Linked DNA regions of Homo sapiens. The protein of the gene in region 2 interacts with the protein of the main gene of each other region in a biochemical or structural test. Each region holds a gene or a part of one and is shown on either strand. Other genes may lie near its edges.

Region 1 (7,026 bases), on a different chromosome or scaffold from region 2:
ATACCTCCAACTATAGGCAAACAGGGAAAAATATATTTTTTTCATAAAGTACTGAATGTTAACTTTTTTCATCTGTTTGTAAAAAATATATGTGCAAAAGTGTGTTTCTAATTATTCCCTAAATAGCTGGTATAGCTATACTTCAGAGTCTTCTTTAACAAGATTTGCGGTGTCTTTAAAAGTGTCTTCTGTTGCAGAATAGGTTGGAGTTGGGTCTCTTCTCGAAGGAGGCTTAGGCTTAGCAGGGAGCGAAGGTGATGGAGGTGGTGTCGCAGCAACACTTTCCTTTTGCTCGTTCTCCATCTAAGAATACAATGTAACAGGAATCAGCCATTTATTCCCCCAAGGTCACCATACACGGTTTTTCATAAAGAAGACTATTTGTGGCCACTCTGCTCAGAATAATCTAAGTGTGTGTCCAATTTAACCAAGCAAATAATTTCTAAGAAAAAATGTCTGTGCTAAGAAAAATTGTTAAAAATTACCTGTGCATAGATTGGATTTTCAAAGTTGGTAGTTTGTTTAGATTTTCGTTTGAAGAGATTCCATTTTGTCACCTAAATGAAAAGGGGAAAACAAAAACCTCTCAGTAATGGAATTATTTTGTGGGTTTCTTTTCCTCCTGTCTCAGTTTTAAAATTTCTTCTTACTGAAGGGTAAAGCAATTTGGGACCTGGGACCATGTGATTCAGCCCATATGGTAAATTGTTCAATTCCTCCTATGGTCCCTGAACAGTAACTGAAACTCTGGGCTCTTTTAATCGAATGGTTTTAAACACTTCTTTGACTTCAAATTTATATATTATAGAATTTGTGCCATAGTATCTACAAGCAAATCACCTGGTTACCTCAGTACAGAGAGAACACATAAAACAGACATGCACAAGATGCATCTGGAGAAAAAGAGATTTCTGGGGCTGCCTGAAAATTGGGTGGAGATGGCAAAGCCAAACTGTAACTCTTATTCCCTAAAGTAACATTCTTTGGTCAACTCAAGAGTATCCCTTCTCCCTTCATCATTCCCTCCTGTGTCACAATAATAATAACAAAAACATCTAACATTTATTGAGTGCTTACTATGTGTCAGGAACTATTCTAAGAGTTTTACAAGTTTCTGATTTTTTTTAACAAACCCCAGAGGTAGGTACACTTATTATCCTATACTTGCTGAGTCACAGCAAGATTATACAACTAACTTGCAGGTAGAAGGGCAGGTAATGATTACTCAGGGGACCCAGAGGCCCATAAACTGGAGAACCCAAAGATAATCACCCTGGACCATGGTGCGTGGCCCACGCTTTACTGAAAAGTTGCCTGTCATGCTGACTGCCAGATAAAAACCTGGTGGGAGACAAGGGAACAGACAGCCTACTCTCAACAGGAGCTGAGGGAGCCCACAGGTTTTATGGGGTGTCTCTTACTCTGTGACAGCAGGGGACCAGCCTGTGGAGGAGTGGGGAACACAGGGCTACAGAAGTAGAAGAGGTCTTCACTTTAACCCACATTCAAGTGAGAACCTGCTTTGTACATAGTGCCCCCAAGGGGAACATGAAGACATTCAGGTCAGAGCCCTGCCTCTGGGCGCTTACAGTTAAGTGGGGCGGGCCAAAGTCTCTTAGATGTCATTGCTTCAAAATGAAATGGCTAACTTGAAGTTAAGCAATTACTAACAAGAGGAAAGGGACGGTGACTTTCATTTTTGTCTCCTTGGGGGATCCTATGCATATCAATGTAACTTTTGGAAAATGATAGAACTGAATCTTTTTTTTTTTTTTTTTGAGATGAAGTCTCACTCTGTCGCCTAGGCTGGAGTGCAGTGTCACAGTCTCGGCCCACTACAACCTCTGCCTCCCGGGTTCAAGCAATCCTCCCACCTCAGCCTCCTGAATAGCTGGGACTACAGGCATATGCCACCACACTCAGCTAATTTTTGCATTTTTAGTAGAGATGGGGTTTCACTATGTTGGCCAGGTTGGTCTTGAACTCCTGATGTCATGATCCACCCACCTCGGCCTCCCAAAGAGCTGGGATTACAGGTGTGAGCCACCGTGCCCAGCCCATGTTTTTAATTGTTAGTCTTTCAACATATTTATGGATGAAAGATACATTTGTGGGACTCTGGCATATTCAAATCAACCTAGGTGATCTCACCCAAGCGCCTCTACTGCTTTTAAAGCATGCTGGCTGTTAACTCAGTGCCCAGGAGGGAAGAAATACAGTGAGATCCCTGGACATAACATGGAAGACACATTTTAGAGGGTCTCAGCCTCACTAATGTAAAAAAGTAAGAGGAGGAACCAAGGTATTACAAAAGGGAAGAGAAAGAAAGGACTACAATTGGTGAAGATCTGCTCTCCTTTGAAAGAGACTGTCAGTTTACATTTTGTTTCTGATAACAGACATGCAGATCAGAGGTTACAGCCTCCCCACCACAGTCCCCTTCCTGCACCAGCTGGGGAAAATGTCTATTTAGTGAAGAAGATCACTAGACTAGAGATGGACTGAGAAAAAATGTTGAAAATATAAAATAAATCTGGCACTAGCTTGGGGTTGACTCAGGCTTGGAGGACCAAATATATGACATTCAAGCATCCGTGTGTCTGTGGAAAATTAATCTTCAAAATCCATTTTTAATATAGCTTAAAGAAAAAATGTTTAGTCCCTTGAAAAATCTGAAACTGAAAATTCCTTTCTAGACAATATTTATGTATGTCTGTGAGTGTATGAGTGTGTGTGTGTGTGTGTGTGTGTGTGTGTGTGTGACATGAGAAGAAGAAATAAGGGAATTTGAGAAGGTGTACAGAAGCCTTGATATAGACTCTTCTCAGCATCAATTTAGGTCAAATTTTATTTTGATTTAAATCAGCAGAACAGAAACCAATGTTTAAGGTGATAATGAGACTGCCAAGTTACCAAGATATCAATGTTTATAGACTATGAAATTTGAGAAATAAAGATTGTATAAAATGGTAAAATTTCCAACTACTCTTAGACTTTCATTTCTTTACATTACTTCACAAAATTGGTCATAGAATCTTAGAACAGAGACATTCCAGATCCTAGCGGTTCTCAACCAGGAGTGAGTGCACATGTGTTGGGGAGGGGAGGTGATTTCTGGGGTCACACTGAATTAGGGGAGACACTACTGGAATTTAGTGGACAGGGACCAGAAATACTGAAATTCCCTGAGTGCATAGGACAGTTTTGTAGCACAAAGAACTGTCCCACTCAATATGCCAATAGCGCCCCCAGTGAGAAATATTATTGAGGACTCTAGCCCCAGAAGTAAAACAGTTTGTCCAGATTCAAACAGCTATATCTGGTATAGCTGCAAATGCATTCATTAAAACTAATGATATACATTAATACAGAGTTTAATATCAAATATATTTATTGAATTTCTTCCTGCAGACCAAATAGTGTACCAATTGCAAAGGACCTGCAGGCATGTTTAAGAAGCTCCATCTAGTGGCATTTTTTTCTTTCAATCTCCAGTATTAAACACCATCCCTGACACATCGAGGGGAATAACGTTAGTTAGATGATTGGTTGGCCAATAATGAATAGATGGATGATGAATGGAAAAATTAGTGCCATCTAGTGGTAAAGATCTGTAATAGCAGGAGAGCGAAGAACAGCTTGAAAGAATAAAGATGCATGCTGTAGAGAAATCACGGCACACACAGACGGATCTTTCATCTGTATCTTTGACACCGTGAAATCTTTATTCATACTGAGTCAATTTCTCAACTTAAATGTCTCTGGTCTGAAGATACTGGATCCAGAAGTCTATTTGTTCTTCTTTGTGACATGTCCTCCTATGTTACAAGGAACATTATTCCCAACTCGATGTTAGAATGTAGCTTTATTTGGTGGAAAGTTTTTCAATCTATGACTTTTTAAAAAATTATATTTATTAACTGTCAACACATCTTGAGATCTTTGAGCCTTCCAGAATCTCCCTTGTTTGCTTAAGGTTAATAAAAACCCAGTCATCCCAAAGTTTTTCCAAATCCCACATTATTTCAGGAGTCGGCAACTGTTACCTGAGTTCCATCAGCAGCTGGTGAAGTTGGGTTTGTCTCTGGAACTATCTCAGAAGGGTTTATGGGACTTCCATAATTCTTATTATCCACATTTTCAGATACAGTCACCTGTGGACATGTTAAAGGCCTTTACCCAATTTTGAAAGAATTTAGTAGTAAATAAATTTGCTGTAAAGTTTGTACCAACTCTGGCTCTTTTTGCCATCTTGTTCTCCCACAGACATCATCAGGCACCATTTTTATTGCATGACCCAGTAGGCCAGGACTAAACATCACTCCCACCGCCCCAAAATCAAGAGCAGCAACCACTAAGTCACCTCATACCTTAATCCTGGGAGGCAAATACATCCCTCACTGGTCACACTCTCACTTATTACTAGCAATTTCTACTGTATTCTCTATACCTTCTTACTCCCACTGTTGACCAAATTTTTGGATAATCATACTCTAGTTATATACTGGAAGCCAAATCCTAGAAGAACAGCAAGAATAATTCCCCAACCTCACTGATGAACTGAGAATCCTATCTTTGGATCTTAATAATTTCTTTGAATATTAATAAATCCTATCTTCGGAAATTAAGATTTCATAGTACTACTAAAAAGAGGTTGAATTTTTGAAAAGATGAGAATGATAGAATTAATAATCTTCTACGCATTTTTCTATAACATTCATACAATTCCAAGGTTCCCTTTTAAGACCAAATTACCATGAATGCATAATAAACTACAAGGTAGACAATTCACTCCTTTTCCTATATTTTCACATTCATTACTTGTTTATTCTGAAACTTGGATATGCATTTGTATACATGGCCTCATTTTATTTTAAGTGAAGATGTCAAATGAAATGTCGTATCTCTTTTATCATGTGATTAAAGTTTTCATATCTGTTTATCAGAGGATCAGGGAAAATGCTTTCAAGATTTAAACATTTCCGATCTTAAAATCACAAAATATTTGTAAAATAAACATTTCTAGTTTCTGTATTAAAATGTGCCATATCTCGAGTTCAAAAGGAGCATTAGGTGTTAACAATGACAGTTATTCATTGTCACTAAGGCCATAGTTGTTGTGACAAAGGAGATACATGTTCGCAGTTGACAAGCAGTAAAAGTGGCGCTGGGGCTATTGATGCAGACCTTATGTAAAGTTATTCCCTTCACCTATATTCCTATTTCATCTCCCAGCTCTTCTTAAAGATGACGGACTGAATCTCAAACATGCTTTCTTTACTATTCCTTTGCACCCGTCATCCCAGCCTCTCTTCACTTTCACTTAGACTGAACCTGACACCCATCAGGCTCAGCAAATTACCTGGGCTGTACTGCTGCAAAGCTTCACAGACAGCCCCCATTACTTCAGTCAAGCCCAAATTTCATCCTCATCTGTTACCTATTTCGGCATAATTCTCATAAAAACACACATGCTCTCCCTGCTGATCAAGTCTGACTAATCTCCCAAACCTCAATCCCTTCTACAAAACAACAACTCCTTTCCTTCCTAGGCATGGTTAGTGCAGTCAGAATTCTTACACAAGAGCCGGGACCGTGCCCTGTAGCCTTTCTGTCCAAACAACTTGACCTTACTGTTTTAGCCTAGCCCTCATGTCTGCGTGCAGCGGCTGCCACTGCTTTAATACTTTTAGAGGCCCTAAAAATCACAAACTATGCTCAACTCACTCTCTACAGTTCTCATAACTTCCAAAATCTATTTTCTTTCTCCCACCTGACGCATATACTGTCTGTTCCCCAGCTCCTTCAGCTGTACTCACTCTTTGTTGAGTCTCCCACAATTACCATTGTTTCTGGCCCAGACTTCAATCCAGCCTCCCACATTACTACGGATACCACACCTGACCCCCATGACTGTATCTCTCTGATCCACCTGACATTCACCCCATTTCCCCATATTTCCTTTTTTCCTGTTCCTCACCCTGAACACACTTGGTTTACTGATAGCAGTTCCACCAGGCCTAATCGCCACTCACCAGCAAAGGCAGGCTATGCTATAGTATCTTCCACATCTATCATTGAGGCTACCGCTCTGCCCCGCTCCACTACCTCTCAGCAAGCCGAACTCATTGCCTTAAGTCAAACCCTCACTCTTGCAAAGGGACTACATGTCAGTATTTATACTGACTCTATATATGCCTTCCATATCCTGCACCACCATGCAAGAGGTTTCCTCACTACACAAGGGTCCTCTATCATTAATGCGTCTTTAATAAAAACGCTTCTCAAAGCCGCTTTACTTCCAGAGGAAGCTGGAGTCATTCACTGCAAGGGCCATCAAAAAGGCATCAGATCCCATCGCTCAGGACAATGCTTATGCTGATAAATTAGCTAAAAAAGCAGCTAGCGTTCCAACTTCTGTCCCTCACAGTCAGTTTTTCTCCTTCACATTAGTCACTCCCACCTAGTCCCCCGCTGAAACTTCCACCTATCAATCTCTTCCCACACAAGGCAAATGGTTCTTAGACCAAGGAAAATATCTCCTTCCAGCCTCACAGGCCCATTCTATTCTGTCATCATTTCATAACCTCTTCCATGTAGGTTACAAGCCACTAGCCAGTCTCTTAGAACCTCTCATTTCCTTTCCATTGTGGAAATCTATCCTCAAGGAAATCACTTCTCAGTGTTCCATCTGCTATTCTACTACTCCTCAGGAATTTCTCAGGCCCCCTCCCTTCCCTACACCTCAAGCTCGGGGTTTTTCCCCCGCCCAGGACTGGCAAATTGACTTTACTCACATGCCCCAAGTCAGGAAACTAAAATACCTCTTGGTCTGGGTAGACACTTTCACAGGATAGGAAGAGGCCTTTCCCACAGGGTCTGAGAAGTCCACTGCGGTCATTTCTTCCCTTCTGTCAGACATAATTCCTCGGTTTGGCCTTCCCACCTCTATACAGTCCGACAGTGGACCGGCCTTTACTTGTCAAGTCACCCAAGCAGTTTCTCAGGCTCTTGGTATTCAGTGGA
Region 2 (7,026 bases):
ATCAGCCGGGTGTGGTGGCAGGCGCCTGTAGTCCCAGCTACTCGGGAGGCTGAGGCAGAATGGCGTGAACCCAGGAGGCGGAGCTTGTAGTGAGCCTATATCGCGCCACTGCACTCCACTCCAGCCTGGGCGACAGAGCGAGACTCCGTCAAAAAAAAAAAAAAAAAAAAAAACACCACACATGTATTTTCCCAAACCTGATGAATCCAAAGCACTAGAAAAGGAGCCTGGGAATCTGTATTTTTACTAGCATTCCAGCTGATTCCTATGAGGAAGTTGGGGAAACACTGAAAGAACCACACTTTATAGTCAGAGCAACCAAGTTCAAGTTCCAGTTTTTGAACTTCTTAGCTATCTAACTGGAGTCTCAGTTTTCTCATCTGCAAAATGGGAATCATAATATCTACTCTGTAGGATTATTAAAGGGATATTAAAAGCCATTTAAAGAGAATAACAAAGGTCTTGATGAACAATGTGTTCCCTAAATGTTTGTTCCCCTTTATCTTGAAGACACTGAGGAACTAGTGAAAGCTTTTGAGCAGATCATGTTCAGATTATTGCTTTAGTTTCAACCCCCTCTGCAATACCCAGGCAAATGGTTGCCCAGCCTCTTCTGTAACACCTTGAGTGACTAAAGATCGAATTTACTATATCCGGAAGCAGTCCATTCCATTTTCAGACAGTTTTAATCATTAGCTCTTCCTTCCTTATGTTGAGCAGAGATCTGCCTTGGGTGACAGAACAAATCTAATCCCTTTTCCACATGATAGGGTGAGGCAATTAACTTAGATAAGGAAAGTACATGCCGCTTGTTTGAGGCGCTGAGAGGGCAGTTTTATTTATGCACATGTCCAGCAAGTAGTAGATATGCAGGTCTGTAGTTCAGTAAAGAGATCAGGAATGTCATTTATACGGCAGGATTTGAAGCTGTGAAAATAAATGACATTGCCATTTAGGGGGGCAGAGCTAATGAAAGGTATTAAGGAATGGTAAGCAGGGTAGAAAGAGAGCCTTTAAAGAAGAAAGCAGGTAATTCATGGAAACAAATGTGGTGAAGAGGTCAGAACAATGTCAGAGAACCAGTGAACCAGTCACTAAATTTGAAGACTAAGAAGTCACCCACTGATCCCTGACAGAGAGTCAGGTTTCTGCTCCCCTGGAGCTTTCCAGAGCTGTTCAGAGCCACACTACCACACTGAAAAGCAGATGCACGCTTCCTTTCGGGCTAGTGAAAGAGAAGTGATTTGAAGCAGCAGCAAGTACTCCAACATTTCCCAACCTGGATGTTGACATAGGTTTCTCAAATAAGGCTCCCACGCTCTATCTTTTGGGGAAACACTGCCTAGTACAGTCCTTCCTGGAGATTAATCACAGGAAAGAGCCCCATTTTCCTCTGTTTAAGCCTGCATTTGCCCAACTTACTAAACCACTGATTTTTCACACAATACTTAGTAATATCTTGAGGAGCTAGTGTTTTCTGGCCAATAATTTGGCAAATGCAGTAAGCAAAGGGATACAAGACAATAGTTTAAGGGACTATTGGTATCAAGGGATATTTTCTTCTTTTTAAGAATGGAAGAAGCTTAAATATGTTTACATGCTGAAGAAAAGGAACCAAGTGTAGAGTGAAGGGCCAAAATCAGGAACAAAAGGGAAGAGAGTAAGCCAGGTTCTGATAAAGGGGTTAGCTTAGCAAAGGGCCTCAGCTCAATGCTTTAGCCATAAGACATTAAGTGCCCCTGATTAAATCTAGTGATCACAAATGGTTACTATTTTCCTAACCACATCTACTTTCCTCAGAGGATACAGATAATTTATCTAGAGAAGGTTACGGGCAGATTATATAAACTGATTCACTAGACACAGTCATGGTCTCCACCCTCGCCCCAGAGTTAAGCTAAGTGTATCCCTTTAATTCCCTTGCCTGAGCCAGGGAAGAGTGCTCCATATCGGGAGCCAATGTCCCACTCCCCCTGCCCAGGCAGAGAGAACTCTAACACAGGATAGGCGGAGAGGGGAAATCTAAAAATAAAGCTCTCCAAAGAAACTGTCTTGCCTAAAGAGCAGCTTCCCACGCACACTGGAGTGCCACATCTGCGGGGGCTGGAAGCACGGAACGGAACAATCCTGACCAAGTCATATAACCATTACCTATTTTGGGGGGTCGACAGTGCATTTCTGATTTCACCCATCAGCACCCCAGTATCCAGGCTGCAGACTGGGAGCAAGGGCTTTAGTGACAGAAAACAAAACTTTCCTTTCCGGGGAATTGGAAAAATGACCAGTGACTAGTCCCGCCTTCCTACCATTCTCCCTTCACAGCGGGAGGTAAGCATAGCACATGCTTTCAACACACAAGGGGTGGAGTTGAGGGTTCACATTAGGAAAGATTGTGAAGGGTTCTAGTGGGCTTCAGGCTCAGAGATGGGCTCCTTTAGCTCCACTCCCTGCGGTAGAGTCAGGGACCACCAACTGGGGAAAAAGAAAAGCAAGCACCATGAGAAAAACTGCAATTAGCGTTGACATCCCTTCACTATTGTCCTCTCACACCCCAAGGACAGAGCAGTTGTCACGTTGCCAAGCAACTAGCAAGTGCAACTTCCCAGCCAGGTATCAGAGGCCACTAGAAAAAGTTCAGCCCAAGAGTTTGATATGACCCCACACCTAAGCATTAAACACAATACTGTAGCAACTTCTGGCTCAGGAGAGTAATCCCCACCACCTTTCTCTAAGGGCTTTAACCTTGGAGGATACAATGTACTTGGCACCAGATTTTGGAGTTTTGCCAAGAAGCCAAAGCAGGAAGAAGGAAGCTATCCCTAATTCTATGAGGAGTCCACAGTATTCACTTGGCACTCCAACTCCCCAGGAGATTTGTACTTTGACCTGACAAAGTATTAAGCTATGCCTCAAGGGTCAGAGAAGCTCAACCTTGGAAATATCTTGGAATAGCTTTCAGCAGCAATATACTCCATGCTACCTATCTGTTCCCTCCACCCCCTCCCTCTTCCTAGGGCACATACACTATACATCCCATGATTCATAGATACAGCAGACCAGTGCAGCGGGTGGTGAGGGGGGAATGGAATCACAATAAAACATCCAGAATGCAGCAACCTGTCAGTTCTTTGGTCTCTTAAAAGAGATCCTGTACCAGAACACTGCGATAGTTGCTATGCTCAGATACAAATCCTGATGTCTATTATGCATACATGGAAGGGGATGGGGGGGTGGCAAGTTTCCCCTCAAAGCACAGATTGCAAGCAAAGTACTTTGAACATTTGACTGATATTTGAATGCTGACTAGCAACAATCACCCAACAGTCTTTTACAATTAGAGCAAACTGAAATTTTCCCATACTGAGTCATTCATGAGCTAAAAGGAAGAAGCCAGCTCACAAAAGGGAGGAGACACTGACCATAAAATACACAACCTAAGCATACAGTGAGAAGCGTTATTTTAGAACTGGGAGTACATACTCCCTAGCCCACTAGTTAAATAAGAAGGGCTGGGTTGGCATGGAGCTCTCCTCGTCCAGCACAAGGGCTAGTGCTCTGAAGGGCAACTTACCTGACATACAAGGACCTCTTTTCACTTGTTCGGAGGGACCCAGACCCAGAGCTCATGCTGCTGTTCATCATTTGTTCTCGTAAGTCATGTATCTTCGATTCAAAGCGACTGTATTCTGTCACGGAAACAAGGGAAAAGATGGGAAAAGAATGAACTCAAGGAGCGCCTCTGAGCTTGCATGCCAGCAGCCAAAAAGCCAGAAGGCCCCTTGGCTTAAAAGCAGCCAGAGCCAGCCCACTCAGTCTTTGCTTTGATAAGCAAAGTCCCTCCTCCTAAGCACAGAAAGACAGACTTCCCTTCAACCCCAGACTAACAGAAGGAAAGAATGCACCTGAAAAGGGAGTAGCATTTGGGCAGGTCAAATGCACAAAGCTCTTATCTGCCTCAAAATGTCACTGATCCTTTATAAAAATAACAACTGGAAAGAGGTTCCAGTGCAACCTTTATAAATCTTTAGAGCTGACACTAAGGCCCAAGGAGAGCAGATGGGAAAGGAGACTTTCCCAAAAAGCGGATTGCAGAGAACAGATGGCCCTGAGACGCAGAGCGGAGGGGCTGGAAAGGACCTGAGGTCAATTATATCATTGTTAGGCAAGAAGACAATTTTTTCAGGATGACTTTTTGGCTGGGGTGAAGGGGGGTGATATTGGAACCCAGTACAGAGGTAAAAACAAACAAACCTCACAACCGTAACAACCATATGAGGAGAATTAAAGCTCTCCTGAGTTATTTCCCTTTTAACCAATAGCCTCTTTGGCTTCAGTAGCATACATTAAAACATAAATTCTCCCAAACCGAGAAGTCGGCTGACACCTCTCACCTCCAAAATCATCCAGTCAGTGAGGTCATAAGTCCATCCCTAACCTTATAGCCCATTGAGACCATCACAACAGCTGGAAACAGCCTTATCACTCTGGAAATGTAATACAGGTTTATGCCGAATTTAAGAAAACCTGATACAAGAAAATTAACTCTAGCTGTACAATTATTATAAAAGGCTTTTTATAGGGCTGCTTTGCTGTGACATTCTCCTAGGACATTTAAAATACAATATTCACACTTACCAAACACACAATTACACATTTTCCAGGCCTATAATTGCCGCATAAAATGGGGTATATCTAAGGCCACAGGCCGTGGAAATGCTAGAAAACAGGCACACTTCACTATGACAAGCTGACTTTGAAGCGAGTCAAAATTTATACTAGGGGTTGAAGGTTGGGAAACTGCTTTAAAAAACAAACACACTTCCAGGGGAAAAAATTCCACAAAAGCAATTTCGTGCACCATAGAGGGCTGGCAAGAAGCATCCCCACCTAGTCCGTATGACTCTACAGGAGAAAACAAAACACCTGTTCCAGCACCTGACACTCCCCTTCCCTCTGCAAAGCAACCAGACTGACCTTCAACTGGGTGTAAGGGGAATTGCTAAAGCCTAAAGGGGAAGGAATGGAGTGAGGCAAATAACCTCCTCTCAACAAAGTTTCTTTTGTTCACTGTGATATCAGTTTAACCAACGGGTTAAATTCGTGTGCTCTTTCATTCATCACACGCCGGTGTTATGGTGATTTGTCCTCATTACCTACTCCTGTTCCTGAAATCCTGGAGGAAGCAGTTAAGTCACTGACTCACCCATTAAACGTTGCGGGGGGTGGGGTGGCGGAGGGTAGAGAGACAACAGCTGGACAATGTTCCTGTTCTGAGGGTTACACGGCAAGCCATCAATATCAATGAGGTGCCCCAACCTAAGCCCTGGACTGTCCTAGAGCATAACAGCAGGCCAGTCTACCTCTGGAGACCGCCTGGGTGCTGGCCCCACCCCAGGGCTTGGCCCTCTACACTGGGTGGGGATTGTTTCTCATTTGTTCCTTTCTGGCCCTCCTCTGAGCTCACCGGCTATGGGCAGAACCGTGTGAGACAAAGATTTCTGACCAGGCAGCCCTTTCTTAGGGGAAGATAAGTCAAAGAGAGAAAGAACTATGCATTGAACTGTGAACAAAAAAGTACACCCAATCTATCTTTAAGCCATGTTTTCCCCTTCTTGAAACTTGTTTATATATTCCCTTCTTTGGAATCGACTTGCCCGCTGAACTCCAACTTAGCAGCAGGTCATGGCAGTTGCTTAGTAACTACATTTCTTTAAAAATCCTTTAAAAAACAACCACGAAACCACCATTTCCTCAAAGCTCCTAATCCAAGGCTGATAATTCTGGGCCAGAGGGCCCACTTAAAATAGACTACAGAAAGAGAACAAAGCTATTGCTCTAAGGCATACGCTTTTTGTTTTTACATGTGCTGCTAAAATTTCAAGTTTATTAAATTGTGTTTTATTCACTTTTTTTTCCATTTGGATGATTCCCTTAGAGTTCCAGCTGCCCATCAGTCTCTGGCTTTTATTTGTAGATTTATCTAAAGTCTACTAGGCAGAGCAGCCTTTGAATAAATGATTGTTGGGTAAATGAGGAGCAAATTAGAAAACTGTGTCCAAGTTGACACTTCTATTCTTAAACTAATAAACTTAATGGTTTATTTAACTGATGGCTGCCAGCTTCACTGAGGGCTTAGAAAGGTGGTTAAGAAGCATTCACATTTACTTTTGTTCCCAAGGTTAATTGTTGGGAGCAATTGGGGTTTATTATTTTTAAACACCCTTTTGAGATGTTAACAACCCACAATAGGCGGCTGATTAACAACTTTTTACAACAAAGAAAAATCATTCTAACAAAAAACTGTTTAGAATAGACTTAGATACTACCTCATCTTAAATATTAGAGGTATCATTTTCCCAGGACAAAAGCTTCCCTTAAAAAGCATCTCAATTCTAAGACTTCAGGACTCGCCAAGCTCCCTCCTTCCCTCTGATTTGTCACTAACACAGCCATCGCAGCCAATGCTGGAGGACATCTCCTAGGCCAAAGTCACCGCCTAGGAAGCCCACCTGACCAGCCTCTAACCCAGAGGGCCCACTTCAAAGAAGCAACACTAAAATCTCAAGTCTACTAAACTGCTTTGTTTTTTCCCATTCAGATGAACCCAACTGTTTGTGACCCACAAAGATATCCAGTCATCGCCCTCTTTCCTTTTTCCCAGTTGCTAATCACAGAGAAACAAGTGGGAGGGGGCACAATCAGAAGTCAGTACCGAAGAAGGGTTTTGCCCCAGTCACTGACAAGTTGGGGTGCCTCTAAAAGATCAGGATTTGGCACCCCATCCCAGATACACAGAATCAGAATCTACTGAGCAGGGGCCCAGGAATCTGCATTTTAACAAGCATCAGTGTGATTCTGATAAAGTTTGGAGCTGCTGGTCTTAACTTACAGAATTGGATCCTGCAGTGTCTCTGAAAAGAAAGGTGGGGCCAGAGAGTGGATAAGCTCTCAAAAATAAAACTTGGTAATACAATTGCAAATCCTTCAGGAAAGGAAAGCCCTAAAGATGCCACAGTCTTATGTGCC
Region 3 (7,026 bases), on a different chromosome or scaffold from region 2:
TAAAATGAGGAATGTACAGTGAAAAACAAACTAATATAAAGCATTCCAGTTGATAAAAACCTCCTCAGGCTTATGGTTTGTTTTCCAAGGAAATTATGTTTCAATGTAAAGTTTGAAATACTCCAGACATACATTCCATGTAGGTTTTGGGTGCCAATGTTAAAATTTCAAATTTTGCATGCAAGGCTTAGCAAAGAAACACTGGCAGAATTCCAGCATTTGCAAAATTCTAAGTTTTGGTGAATATTGTAAATATTACAATTGGTATTAGAAAGCCATGATGAATCCAGAATTAAGAGAAAACCCATTTCATAAATATTTTGTTTGATTAAAAAATACCAGGCTTACCATGTTCTAAATAATTCAAGAAAATATCTTTAAAAAAAAAAGGACTGCAATTTAACAGTAATCTGTATATCTTTAGCTGCCATTAAAAAAAGAAAAAAGAACAACCAAAAACAATGAAAATGTTACAACTGGTATAAAGTAACCCTATGATGCTCCCCTTACGAGAAAACAAAACTGTACACATTTATAAACAAACAGTCTCTCCCATCAGTTAACACACAGAGCCTTCTCTACACCAAAGTCTCTTTCCGTTTGCCACCAGAAAGGGCTTTGTCCCTCGCTCTTCGGATGCCGGGCTGTGTCTGGTGTGTCTTTAAGCTCTTGCTGTCCTCTGCCATCTGCATGCCAGAGCCACATCTGTAAGCGTTTTCATCAACTTCTACCTGAGTAACACTGGAAACTGTGGATGCCCTCCTCTGGGCTGTGAGTTTCCTCGCAGAGGGGTGGTTCCCCTCACACTCTTCGTGCAGCTCCGGCAGGCCCTGCAGCTCAGGTGGACTGCCTGCCGACTGGAAGGGGGCAATGGCCGCTCGAATACAGTTGAACCACTGCTGCTTGTGGAACACGTCATTGGCTTGCAGAGTGTGAGACTGGGCTGGAGAGGGGTCATGGAAGCGAATTCTAAAGATATTTTTAGCTGAAAAAAAAAATTGGAAAAAAAAAAGAAATCAGGCTAAAAAAAGGTTTATTCTAGACAAAGTGGTCATACAATCTTAACGTGACTGTCAATTTATGGCAATTTATTTATGTCAATGTGAATACATTAAGCCTATGCATTATTTCTTAGATACACCTGCGGGTGTTCGAGCTGGGAAGGCCTGGACAACTCAATGGATGTAACAAGTATAGGACAATGGAGCCATTTCATCTCTAGAATTCTTAAAGGCAAAACTAAATTCACTTCAGTTCTGAGCTTCTATTTCTTTAAATTATTGAAGGCCTGCATTTTACCTTTCTCTGAGTTACTGAAAGCTCCTCGAAAGGAGCCTCCCATTCTCACATCTCCATCCTGCAGGTCTTCTAGGACTAGCTCTTGGACTGGGATTGGCTGCCGGTAAACCTGGTAAGAGTGCCGTTCGTTCCGTGTGACGGGCCGAGTCAGAACCAAGATGTCTTGAAACAGGAAAATGTAAAGTTTCTGGAGAAATGGGAAACAAACGCTAAATAGGAAACTTGTGTTTTTAAGTGACTGAAATATATTGCTAAAATAACTCGACATTATTAATTTCATCAGATTTATTTTTCGAAGATCTCTCTAAGTGACAAATCTAGTAATCCATAAAGATGGCAATTTCAAGGCTAAGCATGTTCTATTTGGAAAGTTTTTCCAATCTCAGAATAAATAAAATGTTTCTTATTGGTATGTAATATCAGATTAAGCAGCAGCTAAGTGAATGCTCTGCATCACAAAGACCTATTAGTAGCAACATGACTTGAAACACTAGCGTTGTATACCACAGTTTTCTAACACGAAGGAGGGATTAAAAATGCAAGCTGGTAAAATGTTAATGGTTCTATTTTGTCCCACACAAATTTATACCTTTATAAATTTTCCCCTCGTGAGGGAAAAATCAAAGATGTCAGATTTCAAATTTTTTTAAACAAAACTCCAACTTATAAATTGGGCTTTTGAAAATGCATGATGAAACAAAAATACCATTCCGTGACTGCACTTAGTTCTAGCAGGTACTTTTATAATTAGCATTTAAAAAATACATTTGCATTCATTCAATCTGCTTCAGAAATTTGTTATGTAGTGCGAAAAACCACTTTCATAAGCATAAGATAAACTCTTAGAAGTTTTTTTTGAAGGATGCTTTTTTATTAAGCATTATGGAACTAATACTGTATTTAGACAGGAACCCCTGGCCTAACAAGTTGATTTATGCTTCGAAACTAAAAAATAAAGTATTACTGATTCTCCACTGAGACATTTAAGGTATCTTCTTTGTTGGCTTTATCAAGCTGGTAATATAAAATTAAAATTGGCAACCTTCTTTTACTATGTCATGACTTTCCCTTTACAAGCCTGCTTCATAACAAACGTGTAAAAGTTAAAGAGGCAGGAGGGAAGGCTGCTCTGCCACGGCAGCAAAAGTCACCTACATGTCCACTCTTGCTCCGCAGCTCCCCATGGCACAGCAGCACTTTGCTCGCTTCGATTCTGGGGTCCCTCTGCTTTTCATCCAGGTACTCCAGCTTGTCGATGTAATACTGGCACTCGGATTCACCTTTCTTCAAGTTGATATCAGAGAGGACTCCCTGTATTATCAATATCTGAAAATGATAAATAAAATTGACAGAGCAGCTTCAGTTTATTAACTCATTCTGCTTCCTGCAGAGCAAAAATGTCATATGGAATGGAAGAACTTTAAAGCTTGAAGGGACTCTAGAAATCAGTTAATTCTGCCAGTCTGTTCATTTTATAGATCAAGAAACAGTCCTAGCCAAATTGAGTGATTTGTTCAAAGGTGACAAGGTGAGATCAGATGAGAATCCTGTCCCTTAAGATACAAAATGTGCGAAGTCCAGCATACACAGCTCCTTATTGCTTAGTGCACAGCGTACTAACGCACTGGGTACTTAAAACAACAAAACAATTCACTATGCTGATGTGAATCAGCATCTTCAGAAGATAACGTTCTAAAGCAGCCTAATGTATAAACTTAAAAAACAAAACAATCACTTAAGGGACTACTTACAGCATCCTCCAGAAGCTGAACATCAGGGTGCTCTTTTGGAGTGTGTTTAAGAATTTCTTTTAACAGTAAAGGGTATTTGACTAGGCGACTTCGAGGGATATCTAGGAAACTCCAAAGATCTAGTTTTCGACTGAAGGGAGACTCGAGACATCGCTGGAGGAAGTCTTGGACTCTTGGATCCTGTTTCTTTTGATCAAGAAGAGCTTTGGCTGCCAGCTGGTTACTACAGTAACCTCTGTAGGCATTCAAGCGCGGTAACTGAAGAGTAATAAAAGAAAAGGTATGATGTGTTCCTGTTATGACCGAGTGCATTAACAAGCCTGCAAACATGAAACACAAAATGTACAGCTATTCTTGAGAGTTTTAACAAGCTGTGGACATTTTCTGGCAGATAATAATGGAAGCTGAATAGCATTTTAGCAATCATCAAAATGCTCTTCAAATTTTCATAATTTGGCTAAATCCAAGTGAAGATTCATGACTTCTACTCCCCTCCAACCTCAGACACTGGCAGTCTGTGCTCCCAGGACACTTGAGTGTCCTCCATTTGCCACCAGCCCTGAGACTGTTTATGTGCTTGGCTATTCCTTCACTAGGCTATAAAGGCAGAGACTGCCTTTCATCACTGACTCCCAGCGACTCCTCCTCAAACAGTGCCCCGCATTTGGCATGCGCTTAAACATACATGACAGAATGCAACGGATAATCACACATGATGTGGGAATTCTATCCAAGCAGGAACGTATTTGTAACACAAATGAACCTATAGCATTAATGAAGGTGTTTTTTTTTTTTTTTAAACAGACTGTAACTTCTTATGTCACTGTAAATTTGTTCAGTTTTAACGCCTTATGTGTTTGTAGAACAGAGTTGTGGGATCAAATCTGTCTCATATTCATCAGAAACTGCAACATGGCACATCTGTAAGAAACTGTATCTGGGGTCAACAACTCACTACATACCCAGCTCACGAGAATGTGACCAATCTGCTCCACTGTTCCATCAGGCTTGGTTGCTTCTCCTATTCTTGTCAACAAATCTGAAGTGATAAAAAAGCATAAACACCATTAACAGGTTTATTTAAAAAATAGGTCAGCACTACATTAGAAGTTTAGACTGAAAATTACATGCACCGCTGCTCTTTAGATTTAATGACAATTAAGTGGCACATCTAACCTTCATGCAGAGGTATGTAAGAGTCCAGATCACCAAATATATGTGTGAGTTCCTCTTCTGACATGATGGACAACTTTAACATGGGGTCATGATAGGCCTGTCAGAGGGGAGAAATGTGTCACAGAGAGATCATGTGAGGAAAACATGAGGGATCTATACTTGGAAACAAAGAGAATTAATTACATAAAAGCTAGCGTGGATTCTGTTTGCTACACATAAAATAAATTAGTATGTATTAATCCCCAAATAAACTCTCTTACTAATACTTGTATTTGAGGATGTGTCTAGACCTCACCTAAAAAAAATGTATTCACCAGTAGATATTTTCTATTCTTCTACTTCTAAAGGTTAAGAAAACTATCCTTTAGATTTTGTGAAATGTAATTTTTAAAAACTAGGGCATCTGATAAAAAGTTATTTACTGACCTTTCTTGCAAGTTTGAGATCCTCAATTAAATCCTGTTCACCTCGGGACATTTCATATATTGCCTAAAAACATCCAGCAAACATCAGAGGTCATTCCTTCGAGAAAGGAAAATTATATACAACTGATAATTACATTATTTGATGTTTTGAACGGCATTTTAAAAAGTAACTCAGTCTGAAAATTGTAATTCAGAATGGAATCTCAAATACAAGGTTGCCGTATGTTTGGTAAGTTTACCCTATTAGAGTTGTTTAATTTGACCACCATCCATCATTAGGTTTTGTTCACCATGTATTAGGAATTGTTGCTCAAACACAAAAATCCAAGTTAATTTTGCCATCGGCATCAATTTGCTGTTCTTTTGGGAAAACATGTACACTGAGTGCCAGCATACCTCCTGCCGTCTGATCTCCCTGGTGGTGAGAGACTCCTTCATGGTGATGTCCAGCATCTCTGACCACAGTGCACTGCTCCTTCTCTTGGCGGGTGTTGGGACTGTTGACCTGCTAGAAAACTTCTGGGCAGAGGCTGGGGATCTGTGGTCACCACGAAGGGTAAATGACTTAAAAAAGAAAAGGTGAACAAAAGAGAAAATAAGATTTGGAAGAAATAGAATTATTCCCATTTTCTTTTTTTTTAAAGTGAAGAAAGACAAAGTTCTGAGAATTTCTCAATGCAGAAAACAATAATTTATCCAAGTTTCCACCTACCAATCTTAAATATTTATCAGCTAAAATTACATTTTTGGGAATAAAAACTAGCCAAGACTATGCATTATAAGATGCAAATTAATATAAGATGCAAATTAATATAATGAGGCTACACATTGTTCTGGAACAATATTCCTTACTAGCATATTCCAAAAAGAAAACTATGTTTAAATATAATAATGCAAACTTGTTTGTACAGCTCAAAGACAACTACAAATTCCAGGCTTCTATAAAGTCCGCTGACTACATTACTCTTCCTCCTCTCTTTTTACCTGTATTGTTTGACCAAAACGTCTGACAGCTCCATTTCTTACAGGAGAGATTAAATTTGCCAAGGACGTGACACGAGCCAGAGGTCGAACTCTTTTATTGCTTGGCTCCTATAAAAACAAACCAGATGACACTAAATATATGTCTAGGTGCAATGATTTCATACAAACTTGGACAAAGTAAAGCCCTCTCACAAAACAATTTTTGTACATTATAAAATACAGAAACATGAAAGTAAGAGTTGTTCTTCATTGTCAAAACAATAAGAACTCTATTGAGTAGCAGTAACTTTTCAAAAAATAAGTGTGTAAGAAAGGCCAGTCAAATATTTCCAATAGGGGAAAAAATTAAAATTCAAACAAGGAAATTACATCCTAAAATCTAATGAACTTTTCAGTTTAATGCAGGGAATAACTTTTTTTTTTTTTAAAAAAAAGCCTTATTGTTATGAAAATTTTCGAACATACATGAAAGTGGAGAATGGCATAATGGATCCCATGTGTCTATCGAGGGGCCTCCACAGTGTCTGGTATAACAATTTGTTTCATTTTTGTCCCTACTTAAATGTTTTAAAGCAAATCTCAGACATTGTATCATTTCATTCTTAACTACTTCCGTTAGAAAATACAACCTTTCAATCAACATGTCTGACACTGGAATGGGCTGAAAAATATTGAAGCCAAGGCAGGGAGGAGTTAAAAGAGCACCCAGGCTCTGAAATCTGACTGGGCACAAATCCCGGCTCTACCACTTGCTAGGGCACACCCTTGGCATCAGTTTTCTCATCTATAAAATGGGGCTAAAAGTAGCACTTCTCTTATGAAGTTGTTGTGAAGATTAAATGAATAATATGGCTTGAAACAGTGCCTGGCACATACTCAGTTTGAGCTATTACTAACAGATTTTAGGAATATTTCCATTTACTACATAAACACTGGGATTCATAGATAAATTAGATCCTCTCTCAAACAGTAATTTATTAACTTAAAGGAAAGATATATACAAATCGAGAAGAAATAGTTATGATTCTACATGTTATTGCTTTTAAATAATAATATAGCAAACACATCACTTATTCAAGGATTTTGAAACTTTACAAAAATTGCATTATTCTAATTTTATCGCTAGAAAAATGGAGGCATACCAGTAGGTGACTCACACAGTTACTGAAATGAAGAATGCCAGATCATAAAACTAGCAGGTCTATTCTTTATGTCTATGGAGCATAACTATTTGTATTTTGTGCTTCTGACAATTGTGGCATACTTGACAAAATAATTTTGATGAGAATCCAGGAGGATATATAATTTAAAATTATATTAAAATTATCACTGAAAAATAAGACATCATTTAAAAATAACAGAAGAAGCAACTTTTTCTAAAAATTCTTTGA
Region 4 (7,026 bases), about 58 Mb from region 2:
TAGCAAAAACCCAAATTAAATATGTGGGATTCTTGGAAGAAAGCATCCAGTAACCAAATACTATGAGCAAAAAATTAATTTATTACAGATATATTCTCTAGTAATTCATAATAGCTTCTTGAATTTTAAATGTCTTTTTGCTATTTCCAATGCTTAAAAATCATAATTTTAAAACATAAGTACTGTTTTATATACATTGTGATTTCTTTTCTTTTCTCTCTCTTTTTTGTTTTGTGTTTTACTTCTAAATATGAATGATATGGTTTCCAAGTAGCTACTTGGAAAGAAAGGGGATAGGATTCATTGTTTTGCTCTAACATGGTAGAATTTAAAATTTCACATCATATACCTGGAGTTTTAACTATATGAAAAATAGCCAAATGTCATCACTTTCTTGGATATTTCTTTTACGTGTATATATATGTATAATATAAACAGAATACATCTGATTAGTACATTTCAACATTTCATCAATGTGACTTTTATCTCCTATTTTATATAAAATAACAAAATATACAGAGAGAAGAAAGGAGACATCTGTTCATCATACACACAAAGTAAATAAAAGTTCATGTATGGCTTTGCAAAGGTAGATTATGACGTGACTTCCATATTTATTTGTTTAAAAGCCTCTTGAGAGAACGTGTCAGTGTGCTTACGAGAGCGGCCATGGTGGTTGAGTGTCGCGCCGAGAGTCCAACATTAGGGTCCCCAGGGTTCTTTCCAGTGGCTGCTTCGGCAGCTTTCAGTAGACAAATGTAATTTATGACCACTTCATCGATCTTCCCTACAATTTCCTGCCGCTGTGTTTCTGAGTTCACGACTTTAACTAATCGCATGCAAGCTTCTGTTAGGCAACAGAGCACTTGAAAGCTGGAAGTCATAGCTAGGAGCATCTCCTCCGGGCTTTTCTCAGCCATCGCCATTTTCCTACAGGCACTTCCCAACTGTCTGGACTCAATGGATAACAGTTGCTTGTACTGAGAAAGTGTAAGGTCGTACGCTTCAGGGCGTGACTCCTCCCTCTTCTCCTTGGTTGCCCTGACGAGACAGAGCAGCTCATTGGCATCATTTTGGGCTGCAAGGAACCCATCAGGCATTGCATATGTGCTCTCCTTTAGGGCATTTATTCTTGCAATCCGGGCATCAAAAGCCAGGTTGCTGAAGTCCAAGTCATCTGGGTCTCGCAGGTCTTCTGCCCAGACCTTCAGCACTGACCCTCTGGATAGCTCCCCTCGTTGCTTCTGAATCGCCACAGCCAGGCATGGGCTGCTTGGTTCTGGCATGGCTTGAGTCATCTGTGGTCTATAGAGGCAAGAGACCTGGACGGTGGCCTCTCCCCTCTCCTCTTCTTCCTCACCATCTTCATCCTGCCCTCGGTTCAGGAAGCAATAGCTGAAGGGTCCCCGGCATCTCCAATTGCTGCCCTCCAGCTTCCGCAAGGGTAATGTCCTATACAGCTTTGAGTCTTTATGAGCCACTGGGGACCTTTTGTGAAACCTCCCCTCAGAGCTCAAGTGCATTGAGCTTTGGGAAAAACTTTTGGTGAGCTTCCTCCCCAGGGGGAGTTCTGCTCGCCTTTCAGAACTGGCCTCCTGTGCTTCTGTGATGCCTGGACACTTTAAGCTGACTGCACCCTTGGTTCTCTCTCGGAAGGTCTCCAAATCGACAGATCCGGAGAGGATACTGCTGCTATGTCTCAGAGCCTTCTGGCTGGGAGGTGTCCTGAGGCTCCCCCCTCTCAGATCCGGTGGCCGCCAGCTCACAGCCTCTCCGTATGCCTGATTTGCTTGGGAGAAATCATTAGGGTCTTGATTTGGAATTGGCACCTTTGATTCCGAGTGAATGTTTGATGGTAGCAGGATGGGATCAGCTTCAGGATGTTGAGACCAAGCTGAAGGCATGCCTCCTCGTCTCTCCTTCCCAGGCTCTGTCAAAGCTACACTAGGGGTAGTAGAAAAACAGAGAGAATCATTAAGCATCTCCTGGGAGGTCATTTTTACTACATCTCTACATGATGTCTGTCATTTCTCAAGGTTGTAGTCTGGAAGGGCTGCCGATGCTAAGGTCACCCTGCTTTCCAAAGACTGCCTCTTGATATCTCATAACAAATTTCCATTTTAATGAATATCAAGAAAATACTGGAATCTGTTATTTCTGGAACTGCTGATTCATTTGGAATTGTCTAGAAATCCCAAACATTTTCAGGGATTTCATGAATTGCCTTACTCCCAATATCTACCCATCAAAGCTTAGACACAGAAAACAACTGTGTATAGATTATTCAAATATATTGGAGATATTAAGTTTCATTTCAAGGGAATTAGGTTAAATCTGGCATTGTTACTTTTCTTTTCTTTTCTTTCTTTCTTCCTCCTTTCTTTCTTTCTCTTTCTTTCTTTCTTTCTTTCTTTCTTTCTTTCCTTTCCTTTCCTTTCCTTTCCTTTCCTTTCCTTTCCTTTCCTTTCCTTTCCTTTCTTTCCTTTCTTTCTTTTAAAGAAGTGGCCTAATTTAATTAGTGCAAATTAAATAAGTGAATCTTTTTAAGAAGTCAGCATGAGGTTTGCCTGGTAAAAGTCTGAAGTTGAAACACTGGGCCAGTTGTTCAACATTTTTTTTTTTCTTTAAGAAAAGCTGTCATGTGAAGCAAATAATCCCCATCTCACAGAATTTTTGTGAGAAGCAAGAGGTAACTCAGGTGAAAGTTCTTTATAAATCATGAAGGATTAAACAGTGTGACTTAGTTTAGAGGTAAAGATGCAGTTGGGTGATGAGTTAGGTGATATTCACAGACAGCTTTTCCAAAGGAGGTAAAGCCAGTGGTGGGTTTTGAGAAAGTAGAAAATCTTAAAAGAACAGGAATAGAAAATGACCAATATAAGATGTCACTAACTTCCATTGACCTGTATGGAAAAGACACTATTGATGACATAATTTGAAACATAAAAGTATGAAAGAGTATCTGCTTTTGCCATGTGATGGCCAGCCAAGTGGATCGGTGAGGGGAATGCCTGCCATTGAGTGGTGGAGTGGTGAAGGTGGGATACAGAAGGTGGATGTGTTCTTTTTTCTACGTGTGTTTACACTTTATTATTTTGGGGAAAATAAAGCAGCTCATCAGGAATAGCCTCAAAATCTTCCTGACACTGGGGTATGCAAGACACTTCAGAACATCCATATAGAGCAGTCTTACAGAGTAGGGAGGAATCAGTAAGATTGCCGAAAGGCAAATGATCTCTCCAAACCCCTCCAATCTCCCTGATACCCTGCTCTCTTATCCTTCCTTGTCCCTCAATAATGAAATGGCAGAATTAGAACTCAGATGTCTTGGGAAGAAAATCAAACTGTTATGTGACTCTAAGCAATACTATCATATAACTAAAAGTCACACTGGGCATTGCTAAACATCTGCATTTAGAATTTAGGAAAAACATATTGCCCCATCCAATTCTGAAAGCAAGCACAGAGTAAGATTATAAAGAGCAAATGCCATTTTCACCTTTATAATCTTTAGTATTTATTAAATACCAGGGGATCAATGATTGGTACTTTACAGTTCTGTGGCCTTTTAAAATTCTACCTTTTACTTTTCTTCCAGACATTACGTTTTTAAGTTTGTTGTAAATATGGTTTACATGCTCTTGGCATGTCATACAAAGTGCTAAATCCATCATTGCTGTACCTGTGGTTTCCTTAATCTTGGGGAGCCGATGGCATCCATCTCTCAATGTGCCAAACAGGGGTTCGGTGTTAATGGCTGTGTGCAGAGCAGGCACTGTCATCCGTGGACACATCCCTTCTGTCTGTGGGTGCAGTTCCTTAAAGGTGGCTCCGTGGTTGGGAAGCCCAGGGGCTCTCTCCTCTGAAGGAATGTAATTCACGCCTTTCCCAGAAGCGTCAGGAATCAAGTGCTTCCCCAGGGAGGGGCAGAGCGGCGACTCCACGGGTGTGGCACAGGCACTGCCACTGCTGCCTGTGCCACAGCCTGCATCCACTGAAGAGCCTTGGGAGCTCTGCAGAGAAAAATGGCCCTCGCTTTGCAGTGATGACATCCGCTTGGCCAAGTGGTAGTCACAAAGGCGGGCCACACTCTCATCAGCCTCAGGAAGCTTGGAAGGATGGTCGCAGGTGGACGAGTCAGCGTCCTCTGGGTTATCTAAGTCTTTGGCTGAAGATGCACAGGTCACGTCAGTTAAGAAGCGGTCCCCTTGACCAAGTCCTGAGCCATCACTGGTTTCTCCATCAGGAGCTCCTTCTTCCTTCCCTTCGGCCTCCCTTGCCCCAAGACCAGAAGCTCTTGGAAAGGTTTTCCCTGTTGCTGCTTCTAATCCACTTTTTTCAGCCATCCCACCTTCAGTGGCCACATACCATCTTTGACTGTCCTTGCGAAAGGCAGTTCTCTCCAGATTAAAAGTGCTCAGGTGTTGACTGTCTCGTGAAGACACAGTACCAAATTTACCACTGGCCTCCTCCTCCATCTCTGCCGTTTTGGTCCCCTGCTGTTTTTTTCCTGTTGTGTTCCCATTAGGGGGTGCCTTCCCCTCACCATCGGCCAGCTTGCTTTTCCTTTTGCTAGTGCAGGAGTATGCCACCGACCCCATGTGCAGTTTGCTAAAATAGTCAGTGACCGACTTAGTCTCCATAGTTTCAGGCTCCATCTCCATGTGGTCTGAGTGAAGTAACTGCTTGGAAGGCACAACTTTGGGCGGGAGGTCGGTTGCTGGCCTAGCAGCCAGGGCGTGCGAGGACTTTGGAGGCAAGCCCCCAGCGGGGGTCTTGGAGGCCGGGAACTCGGTCTGCTCTTCTGCAAGGGGGTGGTAGCCTTCGTGAGTGGCCAAGAACATGCGGGAGAGGTTTTCTGACTGTTTTTGTGCTGTGGCCAGTTCAGAACTCTCAGTCATTTCAGAAGAGTTAGTTTCATTGCCCGAGTCTGACGAAGACTCAGGACTATAAGCCCGCAAGATGGCTACACCTGCATGCCGTAAAAAACAAGAACTGATTAATGGATGCATCAGAGGCACTTGGAGACATGTAAGAAAATGGGACTCGTTATTACTAAAACAAAATACCAAGTTTTTCCCTTTTCAGTAAGGACTCTGAGTTTATTGCAGTTTTTCCAGAAATGGGGGTGGGGGGAGATGTGCCTTATGTTTTTAAAAAAAAATAACAAAGGAAATCACATACACACAAAAAAACCCATGATGGCAGTTTCAGCACATTTATGAAATGGGACATGTGTGAAATGGAGAACACCACGTAACAGGACTCCAGGGGCAAATGGCTTGGAAGGATGGAATGATATGGTTATCAGTGAATGAATGTAACAATTGTGAAAGAACCTGAATTGTCACTGGTCTGCTGTTCTTCTGACACGGATAGAGCCTCTAGAGCTCCCAGCGTGGAGACGACGGCATTATCCAGTCCCTTCTCACACTTGCCTTCGGCGCTGGTGGGCACAGCGTCAATGAGGGACACGGGGATCTCATCATTTTGCAGGCTGCTGCCTTTCTCCTTGTCCTCGGGGAAGGAAGCTGCCTGGCTCTGAGAGTCCTCTTCATCTGAACTGTCTCTAAAGCCAGGTGGGGGTGCGGCAATGGCCATGTTCAAGGAACGCAACAGGAAGTCATCCTCATTGTCATCACCTTCTGGAGGGGGCAGGGATGTGAGGTCAATGATGTCATCGCTTGACCCAGACAGGTTGAGGATGGCCGGCTGGTTCATCTCCCCCACCACGAGGTCCTCCTCGCAGCTCACCTCGTCCTCGTCCTCCGCGTCATCAGTGTTTTCTGCATAACAGATGTCATGCAAGAGGGGTTCCTCGATCCCCTCCGCGGCCTGGAAGCTCTTCACATCGCCTATGTTTGCATAAACAGAATTTTCCACAAACTGGATGCCCTCTGCCTCTGGAGTGAGATCCAGGCCCTTCATGTCATTGGCACTGCCAATGTAGAGATTTCTCTGCTTCTCCAGCATTTCAGGACCCTCATCTAGTAGCGTTTCATAGCCAAGGGTTGGGGGACTAATACCATCATCCAAGGCGAAGTCTCCAAAAATAAAGGACACTTTAGCTCCTCTCGGAGATTCCTGTGCTTTCTTCAGAGTTTCTGGTCCTGAGAGGGTCAATAGGGACCGCTGAGCTAGACTTCTGTAGTCTGCCTCACAGGGGGCCTCCCCGGGCTGGCTCAGCTGCTGGTTAAGTCCATCTGAACTATAGGCATTGTCTATGTACAAGTGCCGGTGCTCTTTTGGACACATGGTGCTGTCTGTGATCTCCACCGTCTTCTGCTTTGAATCTATGTATGTTATCTGGGCTTCTTGTTCCCCTTCGCCAATAAAGGTGGTCATTTGGGGTATACAGTTCCAATCTGGGCCAAGGAGGTTATGCTTCCCCTTGTTTTCAGGTCCTAAAGAGAAAGAATCACGCAAAGACACATTACTGTACTGTCTGGTTTTGGGTGGGGCGGGGGTGGGAGGCTCGTCTCTGTTTTTTAACTTAATGGCTTGTAGCATCACTTATGTAAATACAGTTTTTCAACTACCCAAATATAGTACTTATTGATTTAGGCTTCAGGTGTAAGAATTCCTTGGGTTAGGAGAACCGACCTTAACAAAATTGATACTGCATAAACTGTAATTGCTATTTGATAAAATGTAATACCATCTGGGGGTAGGGAAGTATAGCTTAATTCCATCTGACCCTTGGTTCTATTATTAAAAGGCTTCATTCATATCTACAAATGTAAATATACAACATGTCTTTTACCCTTAAAGGTGAGATTTCAATAGGCCGTTATTCCAGAACATTAATTGTTCTTTTCCTTGTAAGGTGAGATTTAATATTCCCTACTTCATGGAGGAAGATATTGAGTGTTTTCCTCATTGAATTCAGAGACGGTCAAGGATCGTCAGAGTTTTACCATAGTTTTTAGGAAATTAAGATAAATGTTGTAATGATAGTACAAAACTTCTATCTTCAGTCTTTTGATATCCTAGTGGATGTTAAAATATTCATGTATAAATGTCAGC

Evidence for each region.
Region 1: the proteins of DLG3 (region 2) and LRP2 interact in a biophysical measurement, tested with the Homo sapiens proteins (one study listed by IntAct).
Region 3: the proteins of DLG3 (region 2) and NET1 interact in a test that uses a peptide from one of them, tested with the Homo sapiens proteins (2 studies listed by IntAct, with this or other methods).
Region 4: the proteins of DLG3 (region 2) and FRMPD4 interact in a test that uses a peptide from one of them, tested with the Homo sapiens proteins (2 studies listed by IntAct, with this or other methods).

Annotation. Positions count from the first base shown.
Region 1 is NC_000002.12:169,128,528-169,135,553, forward strand, and holds part of LRP2 (low-density lipoprotein receptor-related protein 2 precursor), read right to left. Parts: intron 4,155-7,026; coding exon 4,047-4,154; intron 558-4,046; coding exon 486-557; intron 304-485; coding exon 136-303; 3' UTR 1-135. UniProt on the Homo sapiens protein: Multiligand endocytic receptor. Acts together with CUBN to mediate endocytosis of high-density lipoproteins. Mediates receptor-mediated uptake of polybasic drugs such as aprotinin, aminoglycosides and polymyxin B.
Region 2 is NC_000023.11:70,475,810-70,482,835, reverse strand, and holds part of DLG3 (disks large homolog 3), read right to left. Parts: exon of another isoform or gene 5,208-7,026; coding exon of another isoform or gene 5,204-5,207; intron 3,687-5,203; coding exon 3,572-3,686; intron 1-3,571. UniProt on the Homo sapiens protein: Required for learning most likely through its role in synaptic plasticity following NMDA receptor signaling.
Region 3 is NC_000010.11:5,450,547-5,457,572, reverse strand, and holds part of NET1 (neuroepithelial cell-transforming gene 1 protein), read right to left. Parts: intron 5,744-7,026; coding exon 5,636-5,743; intron 5,216-5,635; coding exon 5,048-5,215; intron 4,749-5,047; exon of another isoform or gene 4,716-4,748; coding exon 4,653-4,715; intron 4,324-4,652; coding exon 4,227-4,323; intron 4,090-4,226; coding exon 4,013-4,089; intron 3,309-4,012; coding exon 3,051-3,308; intron 2,626-3,050; coding exon 2,455-2,625; intron 1,487-2,454; coding exon 1,300-1,486; intron 986-1,299; coding exon 579-985; 3' UTR 1-578. UniProt on the Homo sapiens protein: Acts as a guanine nucleotide exchange factor (GEF) for RhoA GTPase. May be involved in activation of the SAPK/JNK pathway Stimulates genotoxic stress-induced RHOB activity in breast cancer cells leading to their cell death.
Region 4 is NC_000023.11:12,715,447-12,722,472, reverse strand, and holds part of FRMPD4 (FERM and PDZ domain-containing protein 4), read right to left. Parts: intron 6,405-7,026; coding exon 5,340-6,404; intron 4,973-5,339; coding exon 3,683-4,972; intron 1,945-3,682; coding exon of another isoform or gene 1,940-1,944; coding exon 615-1,939; 3' UTR 1-614. UniProt on the Homo sapiens protein: Positive regulator of dendritic spine morphogenesis and density. Required for the maintenance of excitatory synaptic transmission. Binds phosphatidylinositol 4,5-bisphosphate.